Linked DNA regions of Homo sapiens: region 2 is linked to region 1. The links come from fine-mapping of genetic effects on gene expression. A gene starts in region 1. The other region holds a variant in brackets. All regions are shown on one strand. Distances are from middle to middle.

What was found.
Region 2: its variant is fine-mapped to the expression of LINC00928 in esophagus mucosa (GTEx, PIP 0.96).

What each region holds. Positions count from the first base shown.
Region 1 is chr15:89,514,375-89,531,234 of GRCh38, reverse strand. LINC00928 (long intergenic non-protein coding RNA 928) reads left to right here and starts at 7,201. Exons shown (of 3, transcript NR_027077.1): 1 at 7,201-7,654.
Region 2 is chr15:89,496,130-89,510,199 of GRCh38, reverse strand. RHCG (Rh family C glycoprotein) reads left to right here and starts at 13,617. Exons shown (of 11, transcript NM_016321.3): 1 at 13,617-13,839. The coding sequence starts at 13,656. It overlaps LINC00928 (long intergenic non-protein coding RNA 928), which reads left to right. Exons shown (of 3, transcript NR_027077.1): 2 at 77-127; 3 at 4,422-5,270. The variant T/C (reference allele first, on the strand shown) is at 9,448.

The sequences.
Region 1 (16,860 bases):
GGAGCCAGGGCCAGCCAGCATTGTGATTTCATTTGGCCCAGCTCAGCCCTGAGCAATGCTTGAATGGAGGAAGGGAAGGGAGCCAAAGCCTGGGGACGGAGACTCCTGAGAGCTGACCGCGCGCAAAGTTTCCCAACCATCTAACTGCATCGTCTCTAAGGGCAAAGCTGGGTGAGGCCCCAGCTGGTGCTGCTGCTATCTAGGGGCTCTGGCTGGTGGGCTGGGTCAGTGGTCAGCAGTGGATACAGAAGACTTCCTCAGCCAGTTTCTTTCCCGCCTTGTCTGAGCTACCGGCTGTTGAGAGAACCTCCCACTTCTCTATCAACTCTGGGCCTTTGCACCTGATGCTTTCTTCAGTGCTTTTTTCTCCTGGCTCTTTCCTACTCATCTTTGAACACCCAGCTTAAAGCCACTTCCTCCAGGAAGCTGTCTCATAATAATAATAATTAAAAACCTGTCTCATAATAATAATCCTCAGCTGCTCCTGTCCTCACAGGTGTCTATCCAGGGCTCACTCTCACCACACTGCCGTATGGATGACTGTGCCCCTGTCTGCCTCCCTGCTAGCTCCTTGAAAAAGTCTAAACAGGCTTGATGTCTGGTCGGTGAGCTTAGGATCCAACAGTGCCTCTGCCACTTTCCATCTCCATGACTTTGAACAAGTCTCTGAATTTCTCAGAGCTTCACTTTCCTCATTGGTAAAATGGAGACAGCTCTTTTGAGGCTTGAATAAGATTAAAGGAAACACACTACGCGAAACTTTGCAGCCACAATTCAGGTGCGCAAGAAACATCACACTTACTTATTTTCTTTAGTTCAGGTTAAGTCTGACTGCAGTAGGCTGGAGGGAAGTTTCATTGCCCCTACTGGGCCTTCCTTCCTTCCTTCCCTCTCTCTCTGCTCACACAGTAATATTGGAAACTTTCGTGATGTGCAGAGAATGAGAGAAAGGCCTGAGATCTGGAGTCCCACCCTGGACATCAGAGATTTGTGCACTGGAGTGTGCAGGATGAGGTAGCAGGTAATAGGAAGCGGTCCCACCTCCATCACACACCAGCTATGTAGCCATGGGAAATTTGCTTGATCTCTCTGACTGTCAGTTTTCTCCTTCTTAACATGGGGATGATGATAGTGCCAACTCCACAGGGTAGTTCAAAGCACACAGCTGATCTATAGAAAGCTTTTAGCATAGAGTGAGTGCAAAGCATGTTGATTTAAGAAAGGTTAACTAGGCCGGGCACAGTGGCTCACGCCTGTAATCTCAGCACTTTGGGAGGCTGAGGCGGGTGGATCACTTGAGGTCAGGCGTTCAAGACCAGCCTAGCCAACACAGTGAAACCCGTCTCTACCAAGAATACAAAAATTAGCTGGACGTGGTGGTGGGCACCTGTAATCCCAGCTACTCAGGAAGCTGGGCAGGAGAATCGCTTGAACCTGGGAGGCGGAGGTTGCAGTGAGCCGAGATTGCGCCACTACACTCCAGTCTGAGTGACAGAGCGAGACTCCGTCTCAAAAAAAAAAAAAAAAAAAAAAGGAAAGGTTAACTATTGCTATTATTAGTATGTATAATGGGAGTCAATGTAAATTAAAATGATTATTATTGATGGTATAGTCAGCCATCTTGCTAATTCTTTTGTTTCTAATAATTTGTTTATTGATTCTTTTGGTTTTCAATGTGATCGCATAATCTGCCACTATAATTTTGTTTCCTCCTGTCTGAACTTTACTCCTTTAATTTCATTATCTTGTCTTATGACCTGACTTTGACCTCTGCAGCCATGCTAGGTAGAAGGGGTGACAGTGGGCATTGTCCTCATGTGGATTTTAAAGGAGATGCTTCCTATATTCCCCACAAAGAATGATGTGTTCCCATAGCCTAGAATTCCCCAAACTTTTTGGTACCAGAAACTGGTTTTGTGGAAGACAATTTTTCCATGGAGGGAGTAGGGGCGGCGGGTATGGTTTCTCATAAGGAGCATGCAACCTGGATCCCTCACATGCACAGTTCACAACAGGGTTGGAGCTCCTGTGAGAATTGAATCCCGCAGCTGATCTGACAGAAGGTGGAGCTAAGGTGGTAATGCTCGCTAGCCTGCCACTCACCTCCAGCTGTGCAGCCTGGTTCCCAACAGGCCACAAATCAGTACAGGGTGGTGATGGGGGACCCCTGCCACAGCCTTTCAGTAAATTAAGGTAATCAGTGTGTTTACCTTCTTTCATGCCTGTTTGTGGATCTCTCTCCACTGACCTTTAGACCCTTGACAACAGAGACTGCATCTGCCAAGAATTGGACAAATTCCCCCAGGGTTGAACTTAGCAGAGACTGGCATTAGCCAAGGGTCTAGGCTGCCTGCTCCATCCTGAGGCTGCCCCTGAGTCCAGCCTTCCACCCCATCTCCTAGCCCTCACCTCTCTCGCCAGATACTGAGTCCACCAGTGTTTTGATCTTGGACTTTCCCGCCTCCAGAACTGTGAGAAATAAATTTCTGCTAAGCCATCCATTTTCATTATAGCAGCCCGAGCAAGCTAAGACACCAGGTGAGGGGTCTGGGGCCTGGAGGACCATTGGTAGAGTCAGGGCCTTGGGGACTTGCTTTTGGAAACCCTGCCTGACATTATGTAGGAATGTGAAATCCCTAACATTTCTCATTAAATACAAATTTGCCATAAAATAATTTGAAATTATCCGGGGACATTTCTTGCTCTTCTTTTTGCTACCAAACCATACTTTTAAATTTTGTTACAACATTTTTCATATGTACAAAAAGGAGACAAAGAATAATACAGTACAAATCTGTGGGATTCACCACCTAACTTAAGAAATAAAATGCTACCTAGAGGGTTGAAACATCCTGTGTGGCCTCTCTGATCCACTCTCCTTACAGCAGAGATAACTACCACCCTAAATTTGGAGGATATTGTTCCCATTTATTTCCTTAAACTTTATATATATTCCTTACAGAGATCTAAAGTGTTTGCCTTTTTTTCAATTGTTACAATGATCTATTAAAATAATTTTTGTAATTTTGCATGTGAAGTTCTTTTGTTACGAGTTACATAAGTTATGCTTGTTCTGATTTTTTAGTCATCGTTAGTCACTTAAGTTCTTGAAGAAGGAGAATAATCTAGCCAATAAATTGATTTCAAGTGTTATGACATGTTTCAGACATAGTTTATAAAGTTGAAGTAATAGTGTGTTTTGTGGACATTTAGCAAAAGGGTCACTAATTTTGACTTTGCAGTTTTCCTTTCATATTTTGAAGCCAGTAATTTTTTTTCTCTAGTCTTATAAATGTTTACGTGAGTACGAAGACCTCCTAGGACCTAGCACTTTAAGGACTTCACACTACTGCCTCTCCCAGTCTTGCCATGAGAGTCCTCGATGGGTACACAGCAGCATTGATATCAGAAGCCAAACTAAAGGTGGTGGTTTGGAGCACCCACTGAGCCAGGCCCCTGTCCTAAGCATTTTGCATCTGTTAATTCACTGACTCCTATAAGGTAGGTGCTACTGCCAGCCCATTTTCCAGAAGAGGAAATAGACACAGCATGGTCACGGCTAGGTAGAAAGGGGTGGGGCTGGGATGTGAACCCAGGCAGTTTGGACACTTCATGATGCTTGCTGCCTGCCATTTTCTGAGCCCCAAATGCACACACATGTACATGTATTTTCTCAGACTCCTCACAAGAACCAGGAATCATCCCCATTTTACAGGAGAGGAGACTGGCCCAGAGAGGCTCAGGGACTTGTTCCAGGTCACACAGCTGAAAGTGACAGATTCTGTGATTCCAAACACTGCCTGTGCCTTTAAGTACTCCACACGACTGCCTCTCCCAAACTTGCCACAAGGCAGCCAGGGTGAGTTCCCTATACCCACTCACTACCTCCATCTCACCCCTCTTTCTGCTGTACAACCTTGCCGGGGAGGGGGGCAGGCGGCGGTCCTGCACGTGTTAAGAGAGGGCGTAGACAGGCACCAGGTGCCAGAGGACCTGACCTCACTGCAGTTCTCTGCCTCTATTAGCCCAGGGCCCCTGCAGTCAGGAGGAGGCTATTTGCAGGCCCTTGGCCCAGGCCTGGCCTCTCCTCACCCCTCCCCACCATCCTTCTCTTTCTCTGGGCTGCTGTCCTGCCCAGGGCAGGTGGCAACCTGGCTGGTTGCTTCCCAGGTGCGATAGTCTCAGCTGACTGCCTCTCCTCCCCCAAGATCGAGACTTATCGGTCATCAGAATCATTCCTGCCATCCAGACCCAGCTCAAGGTCATCCCCAGAAGGTTCCAGCACCTGCTTGCTGCACGGGCCCCCTTCTGCCTTGCCTAGAAATGGGGAGAGAGGGGGTGGCTGGTTTTTTTTTTTTTTAAGAGCCAGATCCTTGCCTGGAGTCCTCTATATTCCAGTGCAGGGAACAGAGCCAGAGTAAAGTTAGAAGGTGAAAGGACAGCAGGCTTTAGATCAGAAGACCAGGGTTTGGTCCCAGGCTCTGTGCCTCCCTTCTGTAACCTTGGACTAGTCACTTTCTCTTTCTGGGCCTCAGTTTCCCAAACTAGAAAGGGTGTTGTGGGGCTAGACACTCTCCAACATCCTTCTCTTCTAGGAGTGTGTGACTAAATCTGTCCCCTGAACCAGAATATTGGGTTTGTGACAGTATTGAGTTTATTATATTAACATATAATAAAAATTATATAGCATATTATAAATTAATTTTTCTTTAGTTAGAAATACTGGCAAACTCATCCCTTGCCATTTCAGGAGGAAGCCTCACGACTGTTCAGCCAAGAAGGAAAGAGGAGACTAAGATGGACCCAACATCTAGAGAAGAGAAGGTGGAAGCAGAGGCAGAAGTGAGAAGTGGGAAGCAGCAAGTGGGAAGGGAAGCCCAGCTTTCCAGTTCTGGCAGTGCAGAGCACTAGAACAGTAGACGGAGCTTTTACAAATGAAACGCCTGAACCTTACCGTAGCCAATCAAATTGGAATTTCTGGGAGTAGAGCTGGGTACGAGTGTTTTTGGAAACACCCCGGATGAGTGTGATGTTCCACGAAGGTCAAGAACCACCATTTAAGAGCAGTGGTTCTCAAACTTTGGCGTGCCTCTGAACCCCCTGAAGAGTTTGGTAAATACAGGACGCCAGACCCCACCTGCAGAGTCTCCCACCCAGCAGGTCTGAATGGGGCCTATATTCATTTCCTGTGGCTGCTGTAACAAATCACCACAAACTCGGTGGCTTAACCAACAGAAATCTATTCTCTTACAATTCTGGAGGTATGAAATTAAAAATGAGTCTCACTGGGCTACCATCAAGGTGTTGGCTGTGTTCCTTCTAGAGGCTCAGGGAGAATCTGTTTCCTTGCTTGCCCCCTCTTCTAGAGGCCACCTGCACTTAAAAGCTTTTTCCCACTTTGGTGTCTTGATTCTTTTTTTTTTTTTTTTGAGACAGAGTCTTACTCTGTCACCTAGGCTGGAGTGTAGTGGTGCAATCTCAGCTCACTATAACCTCTGCCTCCCAGGTTCAAGCAATTCCCGTGCCTCAGCCTCCCGAATAGCTGGGGCCACAGGTGCCTGCCACCACGCCTTAGCTAATTTTTGTGTTTTTAGTAGAGATGGGGTTTCGCCATATTGACCAGGCTGGTCTCGAACTCCTGACCTCAAGTGATCTGCCCACCTTGGCCTCCCAAAGTGCTAGGATTACAGGCCTGAGCCACTGCACCTGGCCTTGGTGTCGATTCTTTATGCTCTTGAGATCCTTGGAATGTATATGTTCTTCCATACCTCCCTTCTGTTTCCTTCACTGAAATTCAAAGTGATTGATATAACAGTACTCCCTGTAGCTTCTTTTCATTTTAACCAAGCCTAAATCAAAGTGTTTTTTTAAAAAATTATAACTCCTATTTTCTTATAAGGATACACAAAACGAAGCAAGATTATATAAGTCAAAGGAAGTAAAAATGAATACGGTACAACAAGGCTAACGACATAAAATTGAACCAGTAATGAAGCTACTGTAAAAAGACAGACCATGGAGTTGTGCACTTTTGCTGCAAGTGGGTACATATTTGGTGTAAAGTTTCCTGGCAGCCAAGACCAAAAGGGAAAACTAGTTAGTTACATAGTTCATAACTGTCCATGTGGTAGAAAATTAATCTACTGCTTAGGAATATGCAGCTGAAAGACCAGAAAGACCCTGTGGAAAGTGGGAAGCCACACCCTCAAGAACATCTTTCCAATAGATTCAAAGACGAGTTTTATGAAATGTTTCTTCTGGCAAAACACAGGAGAGTAAAGCTGATTCTGTAGGGAATGTTGTGCGTCCACCCAGGGATTCATTCTTCTCTTGTTCTGGCTTAAACCTGGGTTAATTTTAGAGTGTCTGGATCATCTGGTTGACCTTAAAGGAGAGTTAGATTCCCAGAAGAAAGAAGGTCGGCCAGTTAGGAAGCATTCTGTTGCTTGATAATTGCAAGCAACAGGAAGTCCAGCCCTATTGGCTGAAACAAATATATTTCTGGACTCGTGTGATTTGGAAGCTCAGTGGTAGTTTTAGCATCAGACAAGACTTTACTCAGAGCTTAAATGCTCTCACCCTCCAAGTATGGGAGTATCCTGGACCTCCCCAAAATGCAACTAAAATGTTAAAGCCCAGCATAGCAGTGGGCCTGTGTAAGTCCTTCCTTCCTATAGTGACTTGTCAGATTAGGTCTGATTAGTCAGATTTTGGAAACTATTCCTATATTTCTTCTTTATATTGACTGGAGAAGAGAAGGTGTTTTCCCCACCATTCTCAGTGAAAGTCCCGAGTTTCAATCTGATTGGATTAGATTAGGTCACACACTCATCCCTTAACTGATCACTGTAGACTGGAAAGCACTAATTAACCTAGGCTGGATTACATACCCTAACTTTGACCTCACTAGACCCAGGATGAGCAACTTGTCTGGGAACAGGGAGCAGAAACAGTGGAGCAGAAACTCTTGGGTTTTAGAATCAGACAGATCCAGGTTAGTTCATTTATTCATCAATTCAAAACACTGGGTGTAACATACCAAATAAAACATATCTAGTCCCACCCCTAACATAGATATTAAACCAGTGTATCAGTTATCTATTGCCATGTAACAAACCACTCCAAAACTTAGTGACCTAAACAATGACCATTTTATGTGCTCACCGTTGTGCAGGTCAGCAGTTTGGGCTGGGCTCAGGTGGGTGATTCTTTTGGACTAATTCATGTGGCTGCAATTGGAGCTGGATGATCTAAATGGTCTCACTCCTAGGTCTGGCTGTTGATGTTGGCTGTTGGCTGAGCCAGGGGCCGCCAGCAGGCTAGCATGGGCTCTTCACTCAGCAGCAGGGTTCCCCAAGAGGACAAGCCCAACACACATGTGCTTTTCAAGCCTGTGATTATCAGGCTTGAAATACTGCAACATCTGCTGCAATCAGTAACAACCACATAAGAAAGCAATGACAAGTTATGATTACTGCTCTGGAGGGAGTGAGCAGGATGCTGTGAGAGAGGGTTACTATTCCAAGTGGCACCTGGGCCAGCAGCATTGGCATCACCTGGGACTTGTGAGAAATCCAGCATCTCAGGCTCCACTGCAGGTCTCCTAAATCAGAATCTACAGTTTAACAAGATCCCCAGCAGATGTGTGTGTAAGGTAACGTTTCAGAAGCTGGTGACTATTGGGGACAGAGGAGTGAAGGAGGGGGAAGAAACAGCACAGCTAGTTTATGCCACTTGGTGTGCTTCTCACATCCTTATAGTTTCTGCCGTGACCTGGCTACCAAGCCAGCAGGGGCCTTCTTCCACTGTCCTGGGGCTCCATAGGAGAGCCCCACATTCACAGTCTCACAGTGAGGACAGCTTTGGTTCAGTGGGTATCACCCAGAGGCAAGCACCTAAAACTGGAGTTCCACTGGGCTTGGCAGGGAGCTTGCCCCTGATACGTGGGAACAAATGGGGCCTCTGTTTATGCATACACAGTGCCAGGTGGGGACAGAGGCCAGTGTTGGAGCAGCCAGTTCTGAGCTCCCTAAAGACCCCTAGGAAAGCCAGACCCTCAGGGCTGCTTGGTCCATCAGCCCCTCACCTGGCATGGAGGATGACAGTGAGTTGTCAGGTCCACAACCATAAGGCTGTGAAGAGGCTTTCCTGGTGGGCAAGTGGGTGGCATTCTAGAATGCCATGCTAGAATGACTGTGTGTCCCATTTGCACAGGGCAGTCCTGTTGACACCTGCCATCCTGTTGTAATTATTAATAATGCCCTTATTCTGGTTTGGATCATAAATTGAAAGGGTCACCCTACTTAAAGCCTGAGTTTAATCTCAGAATTCAGGAAGGTGCCTCTGAAAGAGCACTGGACCCTGAATCAGGAATAGGAACTCTTGTCTTGCCCTGCTTCTGGCAAGCTGGGGGACCTCAGGCATGTCCCTTTTTCCTTCTGGCTTCAGTTGCCTTATATGTCAGAATCGAGGGGTTGGATCAGACAATCCCTGCTAGCTGGGGAGTAAATGAATGTGAAACAGTATCCTTAGGGGTTCTGCTCCATCAGCTCCATGTTGATGAGGACATTGTTCTCTCTCTAGTATCTTTGATTCTATGTCCTCTGGGGACCCCACATTCTGCTAGTTCCTCTCCTGGTCCGCAGCTTGCAGGAACCCTGAACTGGTGTCTCTGAGGCTCTGCCTCGGGGCTCTGTGCCAGTGGGGCCACACTGCCTGTCTGCCTGCCTACTCACCCATACTCTGCTGCACTGGGACCCTTCTTTAGCCTGTACTTCCTAGTTGTGTGACATTTGGGACAAATAACTTAATCACCTGTGACTGTTTCTCCATCTGCCATGGGAGATAGCAATGTCATTCTTGCAGGATCATGGATAGTGCACACAGCGTCCGGCCCATAATAGGGACTCACCAAGGCACTTCTATGCCTCATATGTCTTCAAATTGACCACCTGGAGGGCTCAGCTCAAGTCTTCAATGAGTTGAGAGCTAAAGGAAGTGATTTGCAAGTGTGAAGACTCTAGAAGTTTCCTCTCTGTAACACTCTGCAACGCTCTGAACATTTCCTTTTTTAAAAAAAATTATTTACTTGTTCATTTATTTAGAGACAGGCTCTTTCTCTGTCACCCAGGGCAGAGTGCAGTGGTGTGATCACATCTTACTGCAGCCTCCAACTCCTAGGCTCAAGCTATCCTCATGCCTCAGCTTCCCAAGTAGGTGGGACTGCAGGCAAGGGCCACCATGCTCAGTTAATTTAAAAAAATATTTTGTAGAGACAGAATCTCACTATATTGCCCAGGCTGATCTCAAACTCCTGGCTTCAAGTGATCTTCCTGCCTTGGCCTCCCAAAGTGCTGGGAGTACAGGCATGAGTCACCATACCTGGTTGTAAGTGGAAGTTTCTATGAAAGTTCTCACTCCTCAGCTCTGCCTCACAGACTACATGCTCCACCTGCCATTTGACTAATTGCAGGGAGGAAGGAGGGAAGCAAAATGGACACTTTATCCTTTAAAAGGATCACATAGCTCCTGAGGGCTTTATCCTAGCAACAATATGTTGTGAAATCAAACTTTCTTGCCTGACTCTTGCTTCTGCGGTCTTACTTTGGGACATTTAGCTCCAGCAGAAAGAGCACCACCTCTGCAATCTGACAGCCTTGTCCCCTCTGAACTCTACCTTTCTCTTTTTGACAAAGAAACATTGTCCCCAACTCACAGAATCATGGGGGTTATGCTAGGTGGGATTGTAAAGTATCTGTCCTGTGGTAGGACTCAATAAACTTAGAGCTTTTCCTGCCTTTTGCCCTATTGTCTTTCTGATTGCTGAGAATATATACTTTTCTGTGGGGCAAGATAAGAAAGCAAGAGTTTCAATGTTCTAGTTTCTACTGCTGCATAACAAATGATCCCCAAACATACCTGCTTGAAGCAATAGGTTTTTTGCTCATGATTTTGTGGGCCAGAAATTTGGGAGGCTTCTCTGGGCAGGTCTTGCTGAGGATTTCTCAAGTAGTTATGGTCAGATACTAGATGGTGCTGTCATCATCTGAAGGCTCAAATGGGCTGGGTGTCCAAGATGACTCACTCACCACTGGCAGAAGATGCTGACAGTTGGCAGAGGACTCCATTTGAGACTGTCAACCAGACCACCTACATGTGCCTCTTTGGCATGAGAGTCTTGGCTAGTTGGATTTGTTACATGGAGGCTGGTCACGAACTTCTGACCTCGAGTGATTCCCCCCACCTCAGCCTCCCAAAGTGCTGGGATTACAGGCGTGAGCCACCGTGCTGGGCCCAGAAATTTTTCGTCCTGCGAAACTGACACACTGTACCCATCAAACAGGAACTTCCCATTCTCCCCTTCCCCCGCCCCTGGCAACCACCGTTCAACTTTCTTTCTATGAATTTGATTACTCTAGATACCTCATGTAAGTGGAATCATACAGTATTGCCCTTTTGTGACTGGCTTATTTCACTGAGTATTATGTCTTCAAGGTTCATTCATGTTGTATCATATGTCAGAATTCCCTTTTTAAGACTGAATAATATTCCATTACATGTAGACACCACATTTTGTGGGTTTTTTTGTATTTTTATTACATATATATATATATATTATGGAAATAGTGTCTGGCTATGTTGCCCAGTCTGGTCTTGAACGCCTGGACTCAAGTAATCCTCCCACCTCAGCCTCCCAAAGTGCTGGAATTACAGATGTGAGCCACCACACCCACCACATTTTATGTATTCACTCATTCATAGATGGACATCTGGGTTGCTTCCACCTTTTGGCTATTGTGAATAACGCTGCTATAAACATGGATGTACAAATATCTCTTCAAGACCCTTCTTTTAATTATTTTGGCTATAGACCCAAAAGTAGAATTGTTGGGTTATACGGTAATTCTATTTTTAATTTTTTGAGGAGCTATATTATTGAGTTTTGAGAGTTCTTTCATATTTTAAATAGAAGTCACTTATCAGATACGTAAGTTGAAAATATTTTCTTCCAGACCATTATTTATCTTTTAATTCTCTTAGCAGAGTCTTTAAAAAATCAGAACTTCTTAATTTTGTTGAAGTACAATTTATCCCCCAAAATTTATGGATTATGCCTTTGGTGTCGTGTCTAAGAAATCTTTTCTTTGAGAAGTCCTATTGTTTTCGATTTTACATTTAGGCCTATGATCCACATTAAGTTAAATGTTGTAAGTAATGTGAGGTATAGATTGAGGTTTGTTTTGTTTAGTTTTTTCATATGGATGTCCATTTGTTCTAGCGCCATTTGTTGAAAAGTTTATTCTTGGCTGGGCGCAGTGGCCCATACCTGTAATCCCAGCACTTTGGGAGGCTGAGGCAGGCAGATTGCTTGAGCCCAGGAGTTTGAGACCAGGCTAAGTAACATGGTGAAATCCCATCTCTACAAAAAATACCAAAAAATTTAGCTGGGCCTGGTGGTGCACACCTGTAGTCCCAGCTACTTGGAAGGCTGAGGTGGGAGGATCACTTGAGCCCCAGAGGTTAAGGCTGCAGTGAGCTGTGATCAGACCACTGCACTGCAGCCTGGACATTGGAGAGAGAGAGACCCTGTCTCAAAAAAATGAAAATAAAAGTTTATTATTTCCTCACTGAAATGCCTTTGCAGCTTTGTCAAAATTCAATTGACCATATATGTGTGAGTCTGTTTCTGGACTCTATTTTGTTCTATTTATATATACCAGGAGTGTCCAATCTTCTGGCTTCCCTGGGCCACATGGGAAGAAGAGGTGTCTTGGGCCACACATAAAATACACTAACACTAACGATAGCTGATGAGCTTCTTGAAATTGCAAAAAAAACTCATAATGTTTTAAGAAAGTTTATGAATTCGTGTTGGGCCACATTCAAAGCCATCCTGGCTGCATGCAGCCCATGGGCTGCAGGTTGGACGGGCTTGATGTATACTATTCTCTCACCAGTACCAACTATCTTGATTATTATAGCTTTGGAGTAAGTCATGAAATTAGTAGAAATTCCCTAACTTCGTAGTTCTTGATTGAAATTATTCTGACTATTCTAGTTCCTTTTTTTTTTTTTTTTTTTTTGAGATGGAGTTTCGCTCTTGTTGCCCAGGCTGAAGCGCAGTGGTGCAATCTTGGCTCACTGCAGCCTCCACCTCCTGGGTTCAAGCAATTCTCTTGCTTCAGCCTCCTGAGTAGCTGAGATTACAGGTGCCCGCCACCACACCTGGCTAAATTTTTGTATTTTTAGTAGAGATGGGGTTTTGCCATGTTGGCCAGGCTGGGCTTGAACTCCTGGCTTCAGGTGATCCACCCACCTTGGCCTCCCAAAGTACTGGGATTGCAGGTGTGAGCCACCATGCCCAGCCCCATTGCCTTTTCATACAAACTTTAAAATCAGTTTGCCAACTTTTTTTTGTTGTTGTTGTTTGTTTTTTGAGACAGAATCTCTCTCTGTCACCCAGGCTGGAGTGCAACGGCGTGATCTCGGCTCACTGCAACCTCTGCCTGCCGGGTTCAAGCGATTTTCCTGCCTCAGCCTCCCGAGTAGCTGGTATTACAAGCACACGACACCATGCCCGGCTAATTTTTGTATTCATTTTTAGTAGAGACAGGGTTTCACCATGTTGGCCAGGATGGTCTCGATCTCCTGACCTTGTGATCCACCCGCCTCGACCTCCCAAAGTACTGGGATTACAGGTGTGAGCCACCACGCCTGGCAGCTTGTCTACTTTTACAAAAAAAAAAAAAATTCTGCTGGAATTTTTATTAGAATTGCATTGAATCTAAATCAGTGTGGGAAGAATTTATATCTTAGCAATATTGAATTTTCCAATCCGTGAACATGGTATGCCTCTTCTTTTTTTTAAGGTTTTCTTTGTTTTTGTTTTGTTTTGTTTTGTTTTTGTTTTGTTTTATTTTGTTTTGAGATGGAGTTTTGCTCCTGTTGCCCAGGCTGGAGTGCAGTGGCGCAGTCTCGGTTCACTGCAACCTCTGCCTCCCCAGTTCAAGCAATTCTCCTGCCTCAGCCTCCCAAGTAGCTGGGATTACAGGTACCAGCCACCACGGTCCTGGCTAATTTTTTGTATTTTTAGTAAAGACGGGGTTTCACCATGTTGGCCAGGCTGGTCTTGAACTCCTGACTTCAGGTGATCCACCCGCCTCGGACTTCCAAAGTGCTGGGATTACAGGTGTGAGCCACTGCACCTGGCCTCTTTGATTTTTTTTATTAGTTTATAGTTTTCAGCAGACAGACCTTGCACATATTTTGTCAGATTTATACCTAAGTATTTCATGTTTTCTGGTACTATTGTAAATAAAGCTTCAATTTTTTTTTCAAATTCCAATTGTTTATTACTAATATATAGAAATTTATTTGATTTTTTTATGTTGACCCTTCCCTTTGATTGTTAATCTTCATTATAGATTAACTTCCCTCTTACGTTTCTCACATAAAGACTTTATGGCTATCACATTGCCTTAAGATGGAATGTTAAATATACTCTTTTAAATTGAGTGAGGAAATGAAAATCAGCTGTAAAGAAAGGAAAACAAACTGTAGAGAAAAGAAAACAGACTATCACTAATTAATTTGTTGTAACTCTTATACCACTCTTGTATAGAAAATGCTGTAATCCCATTAAATTTCTTTGTTTTCTACCTGTATTAGCAAGAACTTAACTCTTAACTTTGGAGCACGGATCCCATTTCTCTGGAGTCTTTGTCTCCTGGATGATCATTTTCACCTTTTCACCTGAATAAACTTTAAACTGGATTCTGATCCTTTTAATTCTTTCAGGTTTATAGAGAGAAGATTCAAGCCTCAACAGGCCAGGTCAGTTGGACAAGGTGACTTTTAAGCCCTCTTCTAGCTTCATGAAAACAGATCTGAAACTTGCCTGATCTCAGAAATGGTAGTAAAAACACCATGTACCTGAATGGTCTGGTGGCAGGTATGTCCTGTGCACTTAGTATTCTCTAAGTTCTGGGAGGGGCAGGTTATCTGCCAGTAAGAGGCAGGAGATTCCAGCATCCTGGTGTGCTTAACAGTATCATCTCATTCACCAGACAGGCAGCCCTTGTGCCTCTCCACTAAGGCTAACTGCCAGGAGGATAAGGTGTGGGTGGGTTTTATTCACTGCTCCATCCTCAGAGGCTAGCAAAATGCCTGGAAGAGGGAGAAATCTCTAGTGTTTATAGACAGACCAACACTCGTACCCTGAAAGGACACAATACCACAGGGGATTGGTAGAGGTAATGATTACAGGCAACAGATTGTTCAAAACAACTATATTTAGACAAGTATATTTTTGCAAAACAGCGAAAGCTCAGTGTTCCTTTCAAAATGAAAACTTTCCTTTTCCATACCTCACTATCAATTATTTCAGTCTCAGATATGCCCCGTTCTGTTTCTCCCACAATATTTGACTTAATTAACAATACAGTCGATTATTTACAAGGAAGTTATTTCTAAAACTGTAGTTCAAAATCACATCTGATTTTTTCACCTGACTTTTGTGGTATAGTTGTTTTTGTTTTTAATGATGTTGCCGGGGTTCACTTTTCCCAAAAGTAGTTTTTAAGAGTAAAAAACTGGGGGGAAATCATAAATGGCCAAAGAGGTTAAATAAATTATGTTACCTTCATTAAGTAAAATATTTGCAGCCACTATAATGATGTGAAATTTTATTTACTGGTAAGAAAAGTTCGTAAGGCATTACTGAGTGGGGAAAAAATCAGTTTATAAAACACTATGTATAATGTGATTCCACCTTTTGTTTTTAAAAAATATTTTATATATTTAAATATATTAATATGCAAATATAAGAATACCTAAATATAAGTATATAAACATTCTAGAACAATATACAACAAAATGTTGACAATGGTTATCTCTAGGATTTCAAATCATTTTTGTATTCTTCATATTTGTTATAACAGGGTTCCTTTCTTTATTTTTTATTTTTATTTTATTTTTTTTTGAGATGGAGTCTGTCTCTGTCACCCAGGCTGGAGTGCAGTGTTGCAATCTCGGCTTACTGCAACCTCTGCCTCCCGGGTTCAAGTGATTCTCCGGCCTCAGCCTCCTGAGTAGCTGGGATTACAGGTGCCTGCCACCACGCCCAGCTAATTTTTGTATATTTAGTAGAGACGAGGTCTCACCATGTTGACCAGGTTGGTCTTGAACTCCTGACCTCAGGTGATCTGCCCTCCTCAGCCTCCTAAAGTGCTGGGATGATATGCATGAGCCACCATGCCCAGCCAACAGGGTTTCTTCATAATCAGGAAAGGCTACTGTCATCTTATGAAAAACATTTCAATAAAAGTACATTTCCCTCTAAGAACACAGCTCTGGAATTATAACGTGAGCAAGTAGAAATGAACAAGAACTAGATCTAATACAGGTTTCATAAAGTCTTCTATTACCCAGCTCTCTTGTGGCCCCCAGAGCTGTCCGTCTTCACTTGCCAAACTGTGCCCACAGCAAGCCCCCTTAACTCCAAGTCCTGGTACTCAGCACCACCAGCCTGGGCCTGAGTACCTCTCCCTGAGCTGGGCCTGCATGGAGCAAAAAATGTGTAGGCAGCCAGAGTCCTAGCTGCCCGGGAGGCTGAGATAGTGTTGCTGCTGATAAAGCCACTGTCCATCCAGCAGGGGTGAGACTCTTTAGACAATCTGTACAATCTCTGGGCACAAGAGTTTTCCTTTCTCTGTCTTCCCTCTCTTCCTCGTCCCTTTCTCTTTTCTTTCCTTGCTTCAACTTTCCTTCCCTTGCTTCCACTTCCCTTCCTTCATTTTCTCCATCTCCCAAGCACCTGGAGGTCACAAGGGACTCAATGACGAATCACCCACAGTCCCCCTTAAGGGACCTGCAACTAGAGAGGGAAGCAGGTGAGTCCTAGAGTCCACCTCTGTGTGCTCCGTGCCCTGAGGGAGGGCCTCCTGGAGGAAGTGACATCTGCCTTAAATCCTGAAGGATGAGAATGAGTTGGTCAGGAAAGACAGTGGATAAGAGCCCAATCCTCATGGGCAAGTTGGTTGCTGCTTCAGGTTCCTGACTGGCCCTCCTGTTCCACAGGACCAGTCCTGCCCAGGAAATGGCTTGAAGCCATTCGTTGGCTGGGGTGAGCTCCCTGGCCATCTCACACTACTGCCTCCCTGGCAGCCCAGCCCACCTGGCCCTATGATGGCAGCAGGGCCTGGCTGATGCTCACCCCATAAATGCAGCTGAGTCAGGGTATGTTTCCACACTCAGGACTTCCTGGAGGGACTTGCACAACTGCTCCTGCCAGGTCATGCCCAGGTTTTCTAGTTCTCACCATCAGCTTGGCAATTCTTCCTTATTTTGAATCCAGATCCTTCCTGCTGCATTCAATCCAGTGTCTTTTGCTTTATCCCCAAGGTTTTAAAAAATGAAGAAAAACTGGTCTCCTTGTTCTGTAGGAGAACAGCTGTTCATCTAGAAAGCCGTCCCTCCTTCATTGTTAAGCCCTTGGGCTTTAAGCAAAGATGTGAGGTGTGCTTTAAGCAAGAAAGTATTTGGGATCTTTCTCATTACTCTCGCTTCGACCATGGACCACCCTGGGCACTCAGATCCATTTGCCATTTGGGGGCTATAATTGAATTAAAGACCAATTCAGAGATTATTAGCTCATATGGAACACTGATTGTCTCTGTGAATAAATCCACTACCCTCTCCAATTTTCTCCTAGTAACTAGTAACAGTTTTAAAAAGTATCCCATAACTAGTAACAGTTTTAAAAAGTATCCCTTATGAAGATAGACGTTGGAGAGGTCAGTTTCGGGATGAGTCAACCTTGAAGTTAGACATGGGAGCTGGAGTCCAGGATAGGAGTATTGC
Region 2 (14,070 bases), 20 kb after region 1:
CTTATAGGCCTCTGTCTTTAAACCTGTAATGGTATATTAATCCTTGGTGTTTGAATGTCTCTCTCTCCCCTGCCAGCTCAAGAACCTGTTGAGAGGAGCACCTAGCATAAGACCTGGCTTGTGACAGGTTTGTAATAAGTACATTGATGATGCAGTGAGTTGAATAGTGGAGTGAGCGAAGAGGAGGTGGTCAAAATATCTAACAACCCATATAGTGGCTAGGTGGGGGATGGTGGTGGGAAGTTCAAGGGCATGGCACCAGCATCTGCTTGACCATCTGGTGAAGGCTTTCATGACAGAAGGGGAGAGGGCAAAGAAGTACATGCAGAAGAGACCGCAAGGGCAAGCTAAGCTCACCTTTATGATGAGCTGCTCTTGTGAGAACTAATGCACTTCCTAGAACTAACTCAATCCTGTGTTAATGGCATTAATCCATTCGTGAGGGCTCTACCCTCATGACCCAATCACCTTTTAAGGCCCCACCTCCCAGTTCCATCAGTGGCAACTAAATTTCAGCATAAGTTTTTATGGAGACACTCAAAACATACTATATACATATAGTACGCCTCTGCAGTCAAACCTCAAGCCAGTCTTCTTTTCCCATCTCATTTACCTTTCCAAATAAGGCCTTTAACCCAATCCCAGTCTGACCATGGTGCATGAACTAGACATGTGAGATTTCATTTTGCATAAATATATATATGTATATATATATATATATATAGTATATATACTGTGTTTCAGGTGTCCCCATAAAAATTAACATTTTTATATATCATATTATATATAACATATATAACATTTATATATCATATTATATATAACATATATAACATTTATATATCATATTATATATAACATAACATTTATATATATCATATTATATATAACATATAACATTTATATATCATATTATATATAACATATAACATTTATATATCATATTATATATAACATATAACATTTATATATCATATTATATATAACATAACATTTATATATCATATCATATATAACATATAACATTTATATATCATATTATATATAACATATAACATTTATATATCATATTATATATAACATATAACATTTATATATCATATTATATATAACATATAACATTTATATATCATATTATATATAACATATAACATTTATATATCATATTATATATAACACATAACATTTATATATCATATTATATATAACATAACATTTATATATCATATTATATATAATACATAACATTTATATATATCATATTATATGTAATATATAACATATATATCTCATATTATATATAATATATATAACATTTATATATCGCATATTATATATATTATATATAACATTTATATATCTCATATTATATATAATATATATAACATTTATATATCTCATATTATATAATATATATAACATTTATATATCATATATAATATTTATATATCATTATATATATTCATATATCATATTATATATAATATTCATACATCATATTATATATAATATTTATACATCATATTATATATAATATTTATATATCATATTATATAATATTTATATATCATATTATATATAATATTTATATATCATATTATATATAATATTTATATATCATATTATATATAATATTTATATATCATATTATATATAATATATAACATTTATATATCATATTATGTATAATATATAACATTTATATATCATATTATGTATATATAATATTATATATTATATATAACATTTGTATATCATATTATGTATATATTATATATTATATATAACATTTATATATCATATTATATATTATATATAACATTTATATATTATATTATATATTATATATAACATTTATATATTATATTATATATTATATATAACATTTATATATTATATTATATATAATATATTATATATAACATTTATATATTATATTATATATAATATATATAACATTTATATATTATATTATATATAATATATATTATATATAACATTTATATATTATATTATATATAATATATATTATATATAACATTTATATATTATATTATATATAATATATATTATATATAACATTTATATATTATATTATATATAATATTATATATTATATATAACATTTATATATTATATTATATATAATATTATATATTATATATAACATTTATATATTATATTATATATAATATTATATATTATATATAACATTTATATATTATATTATATATAATATTATATATTATATATAACATTTATATATTATATTATATATAATATTATATATTATATTAACATTTATATATTATATTATATATAATATTATATATTATATATAACATTTATATATTATATATAATATTATATATTATACATAACATTTATATATTATATATGTAATATTTATATATCATATTCTATATAATATTTATATATCATATTCTATATAATATTTATATATCATATTATATATAATATATAACATTGATATATATCATATCATATATATTATATATACCATTGACATATATCATATCATATATATTATATATAACATTTATCTATATACATAAACATTTGACCCTTGAACAACACAGGGATTAGGGGCACCAACTTCCCAGGCAATCAAAAATTTACATATAACTTTTGATCCCCAAAAACTTAACTACTAATAGGCTACTGCAGATCAGAAGCCTTCAATAACATGAACAGTCAATTAACACATATTTCATGTGTAATATGTATGATATATTGTATTCTTACAATAAAGTAAGCAAGAGAAAAGAAAATGTTAAGAAAATCATAAGAAAGAGGAAATATATTTAGTGTTCATTAGGTGGAAGTGGATCATCATAAAGGTCTTCATTCTCATCTTCATATTGAGTAGACGGAGAAGGAGGAAGAGGAGGGGTTGGTCTTGCTGTCTCAGAAATGGCAGAGGAGAAAGATGTGGGGGAGGTGGAAGGGAAGGCAGGAGAAGCAGGCACACTCAGTGCATTTTTGTTGTTGTTGTTTTGTTTTGTTTTTTTGAGACAGAGTCTCGTTCTATCAACCAGGCTGGAGTGCAATGGCGTGATCTTGGCTCACTGCAACCTCCACCTCCTGGGTTCAAGCAATTCTCCTACCTCAGCCTCCTGAGTAGCTGGGATTACAGGCACCCACCACCGCACCCGAATTATTTTTGTATTTTTAGTAGAAACAGGGTTTCACCATGTTGGCCAGGTTGGTTTCAATCTCCTGACCTCGTGATCCACCTGCCTTGGCTTCCCAAAGTGTTGGGATTACAGGCGTGAGCCACTGCACCTGGCCAGTGCACTTTTTATTGAGAAAAATTTGTGTATAAGTGAATCCATGCAGCTCAAACCTATGTTGTTAAAGGGTCAACTGTGTGTGTGTGTGTGTGTGTGTGTGTGTGTGTAGAGAGAGAGAGAGAAGCAGAGAGAGAGTTTTTATAAGGAATTGGCTCACATGATTATGGAGGCTGCCAAGTCCCAAGATCTGCAGTCAGCAAGCTGGAGACCCAGGAGAGCTGATGGTGGAGTTCTAGTCTGAATGTCAGCAGGCTAGAGACCAAGGAAGAGCCAATGTTTTAGTTCAAGTCTGAAAGCAGGAAAAGCACTGGTACCACAAGCTGGAAGGCAGTTGACAGAAGGAGTTCCCTTCTCCTTCGGAGTGAGGGTCAACCTCTTCATTCCATTCAGACCCTCAACTGATTAGATGAGGCCCACCCATATTTGAGGGCAATCTGCTTTACTCAAATGATGATCTCATCCACAAACACCCTCATAGACGCACCCAGAAAGAATAGTGTTTGACCAAATGTCTGGGCACCCCATGCCCAGTCAAGTTGACCTGTAAAATTAACCATCACAGCAGCCAAGGCAGAAATGGAAGTGAGACAGTGGTGGTGGAGGAGCTGCAGCCAGCACCTGAGGCCCTGCCCTGCGGGAGGTCCTACAGAGATAATGCAGAGCTTACCAGGCCCTGTCCACCTGCCCACCCTCAGGGGCAGAGATACAGTCCTCCAGCCAGGAGCAAGGCTGTGCCAAGAGATTACCTCCAGCTTAAGGCAGAGTGTAGATGCCATACCCCAGTGGTTCTCAACTGGGGCAGTTTTATCTCCCAGGAGACATCTGGTAATATGTGAATACCTTTTTTGTTGTCACAACGAGGGGATGGTCATACTCCTGACCACTCACATCCAGTGGGTAGAGGCCAGGGGTGCTGCTAACGCACAGGACAGTCCCCAAAACAGAGATTGATCAGGCCCCAAATGTCATTGGTGCTGAAGTTGAGGAACCCTGCCCTCACCTTCTTTCCTCCACATCTTCCCTCAAGCTGCTCGTGGCATGCCCTTCTCCACTAAGCCAACTTGTTAAACCTCTTCACGGCTGAGATCATGCTGCTTTCTTCTTCAGATCTGCCACCCTCTAGCTGGGTGACTTTTAGACAAGTGATCGACCTCTCTGAGCCAGAGTTTCTACCTTGTAAAAAAAAAAAAATCCCTTCCTGCATGGTCAGCTGTCATGAAAAGGACACATGGTGATGGGCAGACAAAGACAAGGCTTAGCTTCGTGTTTGACTCCTAGGAGCGCCCAGTTCATGGAGGCTGCTGCTGTCACTAATCTGTTTCCATCTTCCCCTGGGAATCCTGAGGTTTATCTGTGAGCCTTTGGACTGCTGTATGGACAACATACTCTGCAGTAGCATGAAGAAGTGAGTGAAGACCCTCCCTTGAACCGTTTGCCCTGAAAGAACAGAAGTCACATCTTGATATCTCAGTGCCTTTACAGTGCCAGGGATGGGGTAGGTGCTGAGCGCCTGGTATGTGCTCACCCTATGCTGTACAACACACAGAAAGCCCCACAGGGTTTGAACTGTAATTAGGTAGAGGGTGTGTGGGACTCGCCTTGGGTCTCTGACTTTGGCTTCTGCTCCCGGCCTTGGATAGGCTGATATTTTCTAGTAGATATCAGAGACTCCGGTTGATAGCACCACAATGGCTTTTCTCCCAACTTTTTGTTTTACGTATTATCAAGCCAACAGAGAAGTTGCAAGAATAGCACAATGAACATGCATATACCCTTCACCTGGATTCACCACTTTTGTTTCATTTCTCTCAGTATATATGTTTGTGTGTGTTGGAGACATATGACATTTTACCTCGAAACCAGGCATCTCCTAGGAAAAAGAGCAGCCTCCCATATAACAACAATACAATGATAACCCTTAAAAAACTTTGCATTAATAAATCCCATTAGTTAATATACCATTCTTAGTTCCTTTTCCTCAGTTGTTCCAATAGCGTTTTTTTTTAAGATTTTGTCTTGATCCAGGAGCCAATCAAGAATCAATCAAAGCATTTTATGGATTTGTCACGTCTCTTTAGCCTACAATCTTTGCCCTCCTTGTTTTTTGTTTGTTTGTTTGTTTTTGACATCCATCACACCTACATTTCTTTTTAAGACTCCAGACCAGTTGTTTTGCAGAATATCCCTCAATTTGAGTTTGTCTGCTGCTTCTGCGTGATTAAATTCAGGGTATGCATTTTTGGCAGGAATAGCACATTTGGGATTGTGTCCTTCTTGGAGCAGCCCATCAGGGAGCAGCACATGATGTCCAGTTCCCCACTATTGCTGTTCTTATTTTTGATCCCATAAGTTGTCATGGAAGAGAGTTTTGCAGAGAGACCTACACCCTTTCCCCTCACTCCACAAGCCACCTACACTGAAGATCTCCCATGAGTATGGGGAGGCAGCCCTGTCTGTGGCTTTGAGGGACTAGAGATGATGGAGGCATGTCCAGAGCTGCTTCCCGGGGCCCCTAGCCCATTCCCCCAGCCCTAATCCCCGCTCCCAACTCCAGGGAGGGCGTGGGACCCCCTCTCCTGGGCCCTGCCTTTGCAGACTTTTCAGAGAGCACCAGAGGGGAATGCCATTACCCACCGTCATAGAAGCAGCACCAATTATATTTGTGACATTTTTCAGTTTACAAAAGACTTTCCTATTGCTTCTTTTCTTTTTATTTTTCTTTTTTTCTTTTTTTTTGAGATGAGGTTTCACCATATTGCCTAGGCTGGTCTTGAACTCCTGGGCTCAAGCAATCCTCCTGCCTCAGCCTCCCAAAGTGCTGAGATTGCAGGCCTGAGCCATTGTGCTCAGCCCCCATTCATTTCTAGTGGCAAATAGTAAAAGCTGCCACTTCATCAAGTACATACTACCAGTCTCGGGGTTAAAAGCATCATTATGCATTAAGGTCATCCCAGGTACTCCTGTCACCCTCTGTATGGATGGGGAAACCAAGGCCCAGAGAAGTTAAGCAGCTTGCCCAAGGTCCCCCAGCTAGGAAGTGGCAGGGCTGGGACTGGAGCCCGGGCCTCCTAGAGCCTCTGGGTCACTGTGCTAAGCACCAAGCTGCATGGTCTTTGAGCATCACAGCAAAATGAGAGCTGAGCAGCACAGACACGGAGGCACCCATTTGCAAATCAAGGAAATCAGGCCCAGACAGGGGGTGTGATCTGACAAAATTTGTGAAACTGGGACCAGCCCCAAGAACTTCTGAGTCCTGGCCTAGTGTCTCGCCACAGCCTCAGGCTGCGTGTGGGACCAAGGCCAGAGATGTCAAGGATGCAAACAGTCATCTATCAAGAGGGATGAGTAGAGAGAAGGGTGATAGCAGGGACAGTCCCAGCACCACGCCCTCAACACAGCCACACCAGAGCAGGGGAGACTCCACCTCACCTGGAAGAAAGACAGCCTGAACCACCTTTGCCTCGAAATCCATCTCCCTGCCTGCCAACGTGGCTACCACACCCTGCCTCTCCCTGGCTGGGGAAAGAACCATCGCGTCCCAGCCGTCAGTCATCCCTGCTTGTCAAGGCACACACATTTTAGGAGGAAGAGGCCGGTTCCTTAGGAAAACCCCTGCCTGGCCTGTTAGACTTGAGCAGCAGGTTTCTTAAACCCCCATCTCAGAGGACAAGGCAAGAATTCCACCTCTGGGTTGTCATCTGAAGTACCAAGCTGGGGTGGGGAGAGGGAGGTAGCCTGGAATCATGTGGTAGGGCATACATGAGACAAGAAAAGCCAAAGGGCAGAGGGTGAAGGTCTACCTATTATCTGCCCTGCAAATCCTAGATCAAAGTCCACCTCTTCCATGAAGTCCACCCTGATCACCCCAGGGCCCATCAAGCTCTCCTCAGGTATACAGGAAAGTGCTCATTCTGCTTTAACCACTGGGGCAAACTTGTATCTCCTTTTCTATGGTGCAAATCTGGGGGGCATGCTTATATAGTTATTTGGGCCTGATATGGAGCTGTGTGCAGTGGGTGCTCCGTACATGTTTTAAATAACTGAATAAATTGAAAGAATCCATTCATCCATTCATTCCATTGGAAAAATAATTAATGGGCAACAACCGCAAGCTAGGATCTCTTCTAGGTGTCCTTGCCCTTGGGTGCTGATGTTCTAATGTAGGAAGACACCATAGACAGATACGAGAAGCGCTAGGAAGAAACAGTGTATGAATGCTTGACGTGGAGGTTGGGATAGGAGAGAGTGGGGAGAGAGCCCTCCACCCTCCCGCTGTCTCATCAATCCCCTCTAGCCCCAGCCCCCTTTACCCACAAGGACAGACACTCCGCAGAGCACCTGGGCCTTGCCTGAGGTGGGCGGGCAGGCTGCTGGCCATGCCTTATGTGAGCTGGAGACAGAATGTTCTGGGAGGGGACATTTTTCCTAGGCTTCTGGAATAGTGGCCATTTTTTCTTCCAGGAGCACCAGAAATAAAACTGCCGGCCACCCAGGGGAGAAACTGAGAGCTTGGCCTTTACTAATACCAAGGGCAGTTGAGGAAGGGGACAGCTGCCTGGGGTGTTCAGAAAAGGGCAGTCACAGCTGGGCGTGGTGGCTCACGCCTATAATCCCAGCACTTTGGGAGGCCGAGGCTGGCGGATCACCTGAGGTCAGGAGTTCAAGACCAGCCTGGCCAACATGGTGAAACCCCGTCTCTACACAAATACAAAAATTAGCTGGGCATGGTGGTGGGTGCCTGTAGTCCTAGTTAGTCGGGAGGCTGAGGTGGAAGAATTGCTTGAACCCGGGAGGTGGAGGTTGCAGTGAGCCGAGATCATGCCATTGCATTCCAGCCTGGGCAACAGAGTGAGACTGAGTCTCAGAAAAGCAAAGCAAAGCAAAGAAAAAAGAGAAGAGAAGAGAAAAGAAAAGAAAAAGAAAAAGGGCAGTCACATCAAAATGCTGTGGGCTGGGACTAGGGCACCGGCAGATGAACTGATTTCCCCGCCTCCCTCCATGGGGCCTTCCTTGGCCGCTCAGTGTACATTGTACTCCTGGCCTCCTCTCTCCCGCTTTCCTCCCCTCTGCTCCACACAGCATGTATCACCCTCCCACATGCTGTCTGCTTTACCTATCTATTGTTAAACACAGTAGATAAGTAAGGTACATACTACCAGGTTGTTTGCCAACCTTCCCCACCATTCGTAGAATGCCAGCTCCACCAGGACTAGGATTGTTGCTTCATTTGTTCACTGCCATGTCTCAGCACCTGAAACAGTGCCTGGCACATACTAGGTGCTCAAAGAATATTATTCATTCCTTCCTCAATCCTTCAAGAACACTCCCCAAGTGCCTCTTCTGTGCCCCCACACTATACTGTGAGCAGGGGACAGATTTATAAATAAGATGTTACCCCTGTCTTAACAGAGTTGATGGACCCTCTAGGGAATGAATGACTTCAGAGGGTGGTGTGCTCCCCACCCCCCTCATCCCAAAAGCTCTCTGTCCTAGCCCAACTTTCAACTTGGACCTCCAGTAACTGGGCCTGTAGAGCCTGCAGAGGTGGTGCTAGCAGTTGCTACTGCTGTCTGTGGTCTCATCTTCTCAAATATTATGCAGGGGGCACTAGGAGAGGGCTTCACTGTCTCCGGGTGGTAGGACCTCACACAGGGGACAGGTGCCATGATCGATGTGGCTGGGAGGATGCTGGGTGTGGGAAAGAGAGAAGAATGTGGAAAGGAAGAAGAGGGCATGCTGGGAGGAGAGGCAGAGGAAGCCGAAGAGGGCAGCCTGCAAACCCCACACAGGATGAGACACAGTGAATGTGGTTGAGGTCACTCCAGGATCAAGGGTGAGGCCTTTCCTGGGTGACTTAGGTCCTGGCAGGGCTGCAAGAGGCTGTGAAGCAATGCACTCGGCTTGTCCAACCAGAGAGAAGGCTGCATGTGAGTGGGGAAAAGCAACAGAGGGGCTAGCTCCTCTGGGCTGGGGGGCACCTTGCAACTAGAAGCAGCTTTGGAAATGACCCATTCACAATCTTCATTTCACAGGTGAGGACGCAAGCCCAGAGAGGCTAAGAATTTGCCTGAGATCACCAGCAGAGGGAGACAGAAACTGGACCCACACCAGGCCAGGACTCCTTCCACCATCC[T/C]ACACTTACCTGCCTCAGTTCTTCAACCTTGATTACCTATCTTTCTCTGCAGAATCTCAAGTGGCACATGCTTTTCAATTGTTCCAGGCACTAGGAAAAAAATGAACAGGAACTGAGGGCATGTCACATGCCAGGCACTGTGCTGGGCTCTTCGCCATGCTGTATCTCAGAATAAGTCTCACCAGCTGGGTGCAGTGGCTCACGCCCGTAATCCCAGCACTCGGGGAGGCCGAAGTGGGAGGATCACTTAAGCCTGGAAATTCAAGATCAGCCTGGGCAATATAGCAAAACTCCACCCCTACAAAAATACAGAAAACATTAGATGGGCATGGTGGCACAGACCTGTAGTCCCAGCTACTCAGAATAAGTCTCACCAAGACCCGAGGGGAGATAACTGTCTCGATTTTACAGATGAGAGAGTAGAGACTCAGAGAGGTTGACAATTTGCCCAGGGTCACACAACTACTCAAGAAGCAGAAGTAAAACCAGGGACGTCAATGCCTAGCTTTCCCTCTGCTCCCCCTATTCTGCAGGGGTCACGCCACCCAGGCCCTCAGGCTGTGGAGGCTCTGACAGTTGGTCTTGCCGCAGAGAAAGGGATGAAGAGAAGACTTCTGGACTGGAAGAGGCTCCCTGGGCCCCTTCCTTGGTTGGTGATTGCTGGGGCTCACTGAGGTCAAGAGAGACCTAGCAGCTTCCTGGAATAAAACAAAGGGAGAAATACCATAAAGGGTTAAATACTATGGTATGTTGATATACTATAAACAAATAATTTTTTCTTTTTTCGAGATGAAGTCTTGCTCTGTCGCCCAGGCTGGAGTTCACTGCAACCTCCACCTCCCGGGTTCAAGAGATTCCTCTGTCTCAGCCTCCCGAGTAGCTGGATTACAGGCGCCTGCCATCACAGCCAGCTAATTTTTGTATTTTTAGTAGAGACGGGGTTTCACCATGTTGGCCAGGCTGGTCTCAAACTCCTGGCCTCAAATGATCCACCCGCCTCAGCCTCCCAAAGTGCTGGGATTACAGGTGTGAGCCACTGTGCCCGGCCAGGACTTGTTTTTGAATGTTAATTCATGATGACCTATATTAGTTGAGTGGCCCAGAAATGTAACCCAAGAAAAAAACCATCTGATAACAGTGTCTCCCTTGAACCTTGTATCCCCTTTGTAGTCTGAAGCCCATCGTTTGTACCTTGAGTCTACCAAATATGAAGGTCAAGGGCAAACGGCCTTCTTGTGCTGGCTGTGGGTAGTGACCGTGCTTGGCTGTGGCTCCAGGTCTGTCCCACTGAGCCTCTGCAGGGCTTGTGAGTCAGCGTCTCTCTCCTGGACCCTGTACCCTGCCCCATCAAGGAGTCCCCCAAGGGGGTCCCGGGTTCCAGCACCACAGGTGTGCTAGGGGACTCTGGAGGAGGTCTGGATGGGAGGGCAGTTCTCACAATGAGCAAGACACCCCGGCTTCCCTATCCTTTAAGCAGGCCAGCCTGGTGAGCAGGTCTTCCACCTGCCCCCTCCCGGCCCAGGCTTCAGGGACCACGCCACCCACTGCCCTCTATCCCATAACGCCACTGCTCCTGTGGGGAACCTAGATGCTCATGAATCTACTTGCAGCAGCCTCCCCCACCCCAGCCCTTGTCTCCCTCCCTCCACTTACTCCCATTGCCGTGTACTTGAAGTTTTTCTCCCCAGCAGTGAATGCACATGCACGAAGTCAAACCCTCCTTCTCGCTCCTTCCAGAGGGGACAAGCAGAATGGCACAGTAGAAAGACTACAGCCTTTGAAATCAGACAGCCCAGGGTTTGAATCTCCAGCAAGTTCCTTAGCCAATCTGAGAACTCAGGTTTTTCAACTGTAGCATGTACCTACAATGTCCACTTCACAAGTGTTTAGTTGAGAATTTAAATATATATCAAAAGGATCCGGCAACCGCAGGAACTTAATAAATGGTCCCTATTGCTGGTATTGCTCATGCAGTGTCTGGCTGCTTCTTTGCCAAGGGAGTGGGGATACCCTGGTACCCCAAGCTGGCACAGTGTGGCCACACTCAAGTTCCAAGCACCCTGATTAGGTGCTTAGCCTCAGATGTTATACATGGCATTAGTGGCTTTTACAAATCTGGGATTTCAACTGGCAAGATTTTTTAAAGCCAGCATTGGCAAGAGTGCATGGGAAAAGTCACTGACCCCTGGCTCACAGGGTGCATGCTTTGTCTCGTAAAATCTTTCTAGGGGAACATCTAGAGATATGTATTGAAACAGCTCTGCCTCCAGGAATTCACAGAAAGTTGTGCAAAGACTTACATATCTGGATGTTCATGACAGCATGATTTGTAATACTAAACAAATAAAAAATGACCTCATCGCTCGTCACCTAACACTAGGGATTGTCTAGATAAAGCACAGTATATCCTGCTATAAAAGTTATGTTGTGGCAGGCTGGGTGTGGTGGCTCATGCCTGTAATCCCAGCATTTTGAGAGGCTGAGGTGGGAGGATCACTTGAGCCCATAAGTTCAAGACCACCCTGGGCAAGATAGGGAGACCCCATCTCTACAAAAAAAAAAAACTTAGCCGGGCGCGGTGGCGCACGCCTATAGTCCCAGCTACTCAGGAGGCTGAGGCCAGAGAATGGTGTGAACCCGGGAGGCGGAGCTTGCAGTGAGCCGAGATCACCCCACTGCACTCCAGCCTGGGCAACAGAGCGAGACCTGTCTCAAAAAAAAAAAAAAAAAAAAAAAAAAAATTAGGTGGGCCTGGTGGCACATGCCTGTGGTTTCAGCTAATTGGGAGGCTGAAGTGGGAGGATCACTTGAGCCCAGGAGGTCAAGGCAGCAGTGAACCATGATCAAGCCACTGCCCTCCAGCCTGGGCATCAGAGCAAGACCCTATCTCAAAAAAATAAATAAATAAAAAAGAAAAAGAAAAAGAAAAAAAGTTGTAGAAGTATAATATGGGAAGGTGTTTACAAAATATGAAAGGAGTTAAAAACGCTATAAATTAGTATGATCGTTTGAAACACTCCCCCTGCTCCCCTCCAGCCCCTCTTCAATGAGCTAGGAAAAGACTAGAGTACATACACCAAAATATTAGTATTGCCTCTGGGTGGTGGGATTATGAGTGATTTTTACTTTCTTCTTTGTGTTTTTCTGTATTTTCCAAATCTCTACAATTATCTCTGTATTTTTAAAGAAAAATTAGAAAATCAAATTTATTTTGACAATATACAGACTAAGCAGACAATATACAGACTGTTATACTGCTGAACAGAGAAACATGGGGATCATTGGCCTCCCAGTGAGATCAGAAGGAATTCCCAGACCTAAATATTATGGTTAACTCATGTCAAGATCACAGATCTTAACCAGAAGACAGTTCCTGACTATGGACCAATGAACTTGTGAAAAACTCTTAAATTGTTCTTACAATCCTTTATACGTGTTTTTTTTCTTAAAACCCTTGTATTTTGGAATAATTTTAGATTTACAGAAAAGTGGCAAAGACAGTCCCCATATAGCCCTTACTCAGTTTATCCTACTGTTAACATTTTACATAACCATGACATTTGTCCCAACTAAGAAAACAACATGGGAACGTCACTATTAACTAATTTTCAGGCTTTATTTGGATTTTACCAGTTTTCCAATTAACATCCTTTTTCTGTTCCAGGGTCAAGTCTGGGGTAGCACATCACAGATGTCTCCCCAGGCCGCTCTGTTGTGTGACAGTGTCCCAAACATTCCTTGTTTCTCATGTGCCCTGTATGAATTTCATAATCAGAAAAAGAAAGGACAGATGATGATGCAGATGATGATGGCAGATGATGATGATGTTGATGATGATGACTTAGGTCTGGGAATTCCTTCTGATCTCACTGGGAGGCCAATGATCCCCGTGTTTCTCTGTTCAGCAGAACAAAAGGAGAAAGGCCCCAGTATCAACGGGACACACAGAATTTGGGGCACCCTGATCCTCCTGCCCACTGCCTTAGCCTCTGCTCCTGCCGCTGTCCCCCAGCCCGACGCGGGGAATCTTTTGGGGCCCTCGGCTTGGGTTGGGCCCCTGCCAGTTGGGCGAGCGCGCGGGCGGTGCCCGAGTCAGCTGCTCCGTGCCCCACGTGGCCGCCCCGCCCCCCTGCCCGGGTCTCAAAAGCCCCGCCGGCCTCCGAGCGTCCGAACCGCCCGCTGCCAGCCCGGCCAGGCACCCCTGCAGCATGGCCTGGAACACCAACCTCCGCTGGCGGCTGCCGCTCACCTGCCTGCTCCTGCAGGTGATTATGGTGATTCTCTTCGGGGTGTTCGTGCGCTACGACTTCGAGGCCGACGCCCACTGGTGGTCAGAGAGGACGCACAAGAACTTGAGCGACATGGAGAACGAATTCTACTATCGCTACCCAAGTAAGTCTCGCCGCCTGCAGGCCCAGCGGAGGCATATCCGCGCCGGTCCCCACCTGGCCAAGGGCTCGGCCCAGAGCTGGGCAGAGGAGGGGATCTACCCTGCAGCCGCGGACTCCGCATCTCGCCGGCCTCTGCAGGGCATGCGTGGGAAATTGTCAGATGTGCACAAACTCCTTTTCCCCGTGAAAAACTAGTAGGGAAAACACCGGGATGAGGTTTTTATTTGACCGC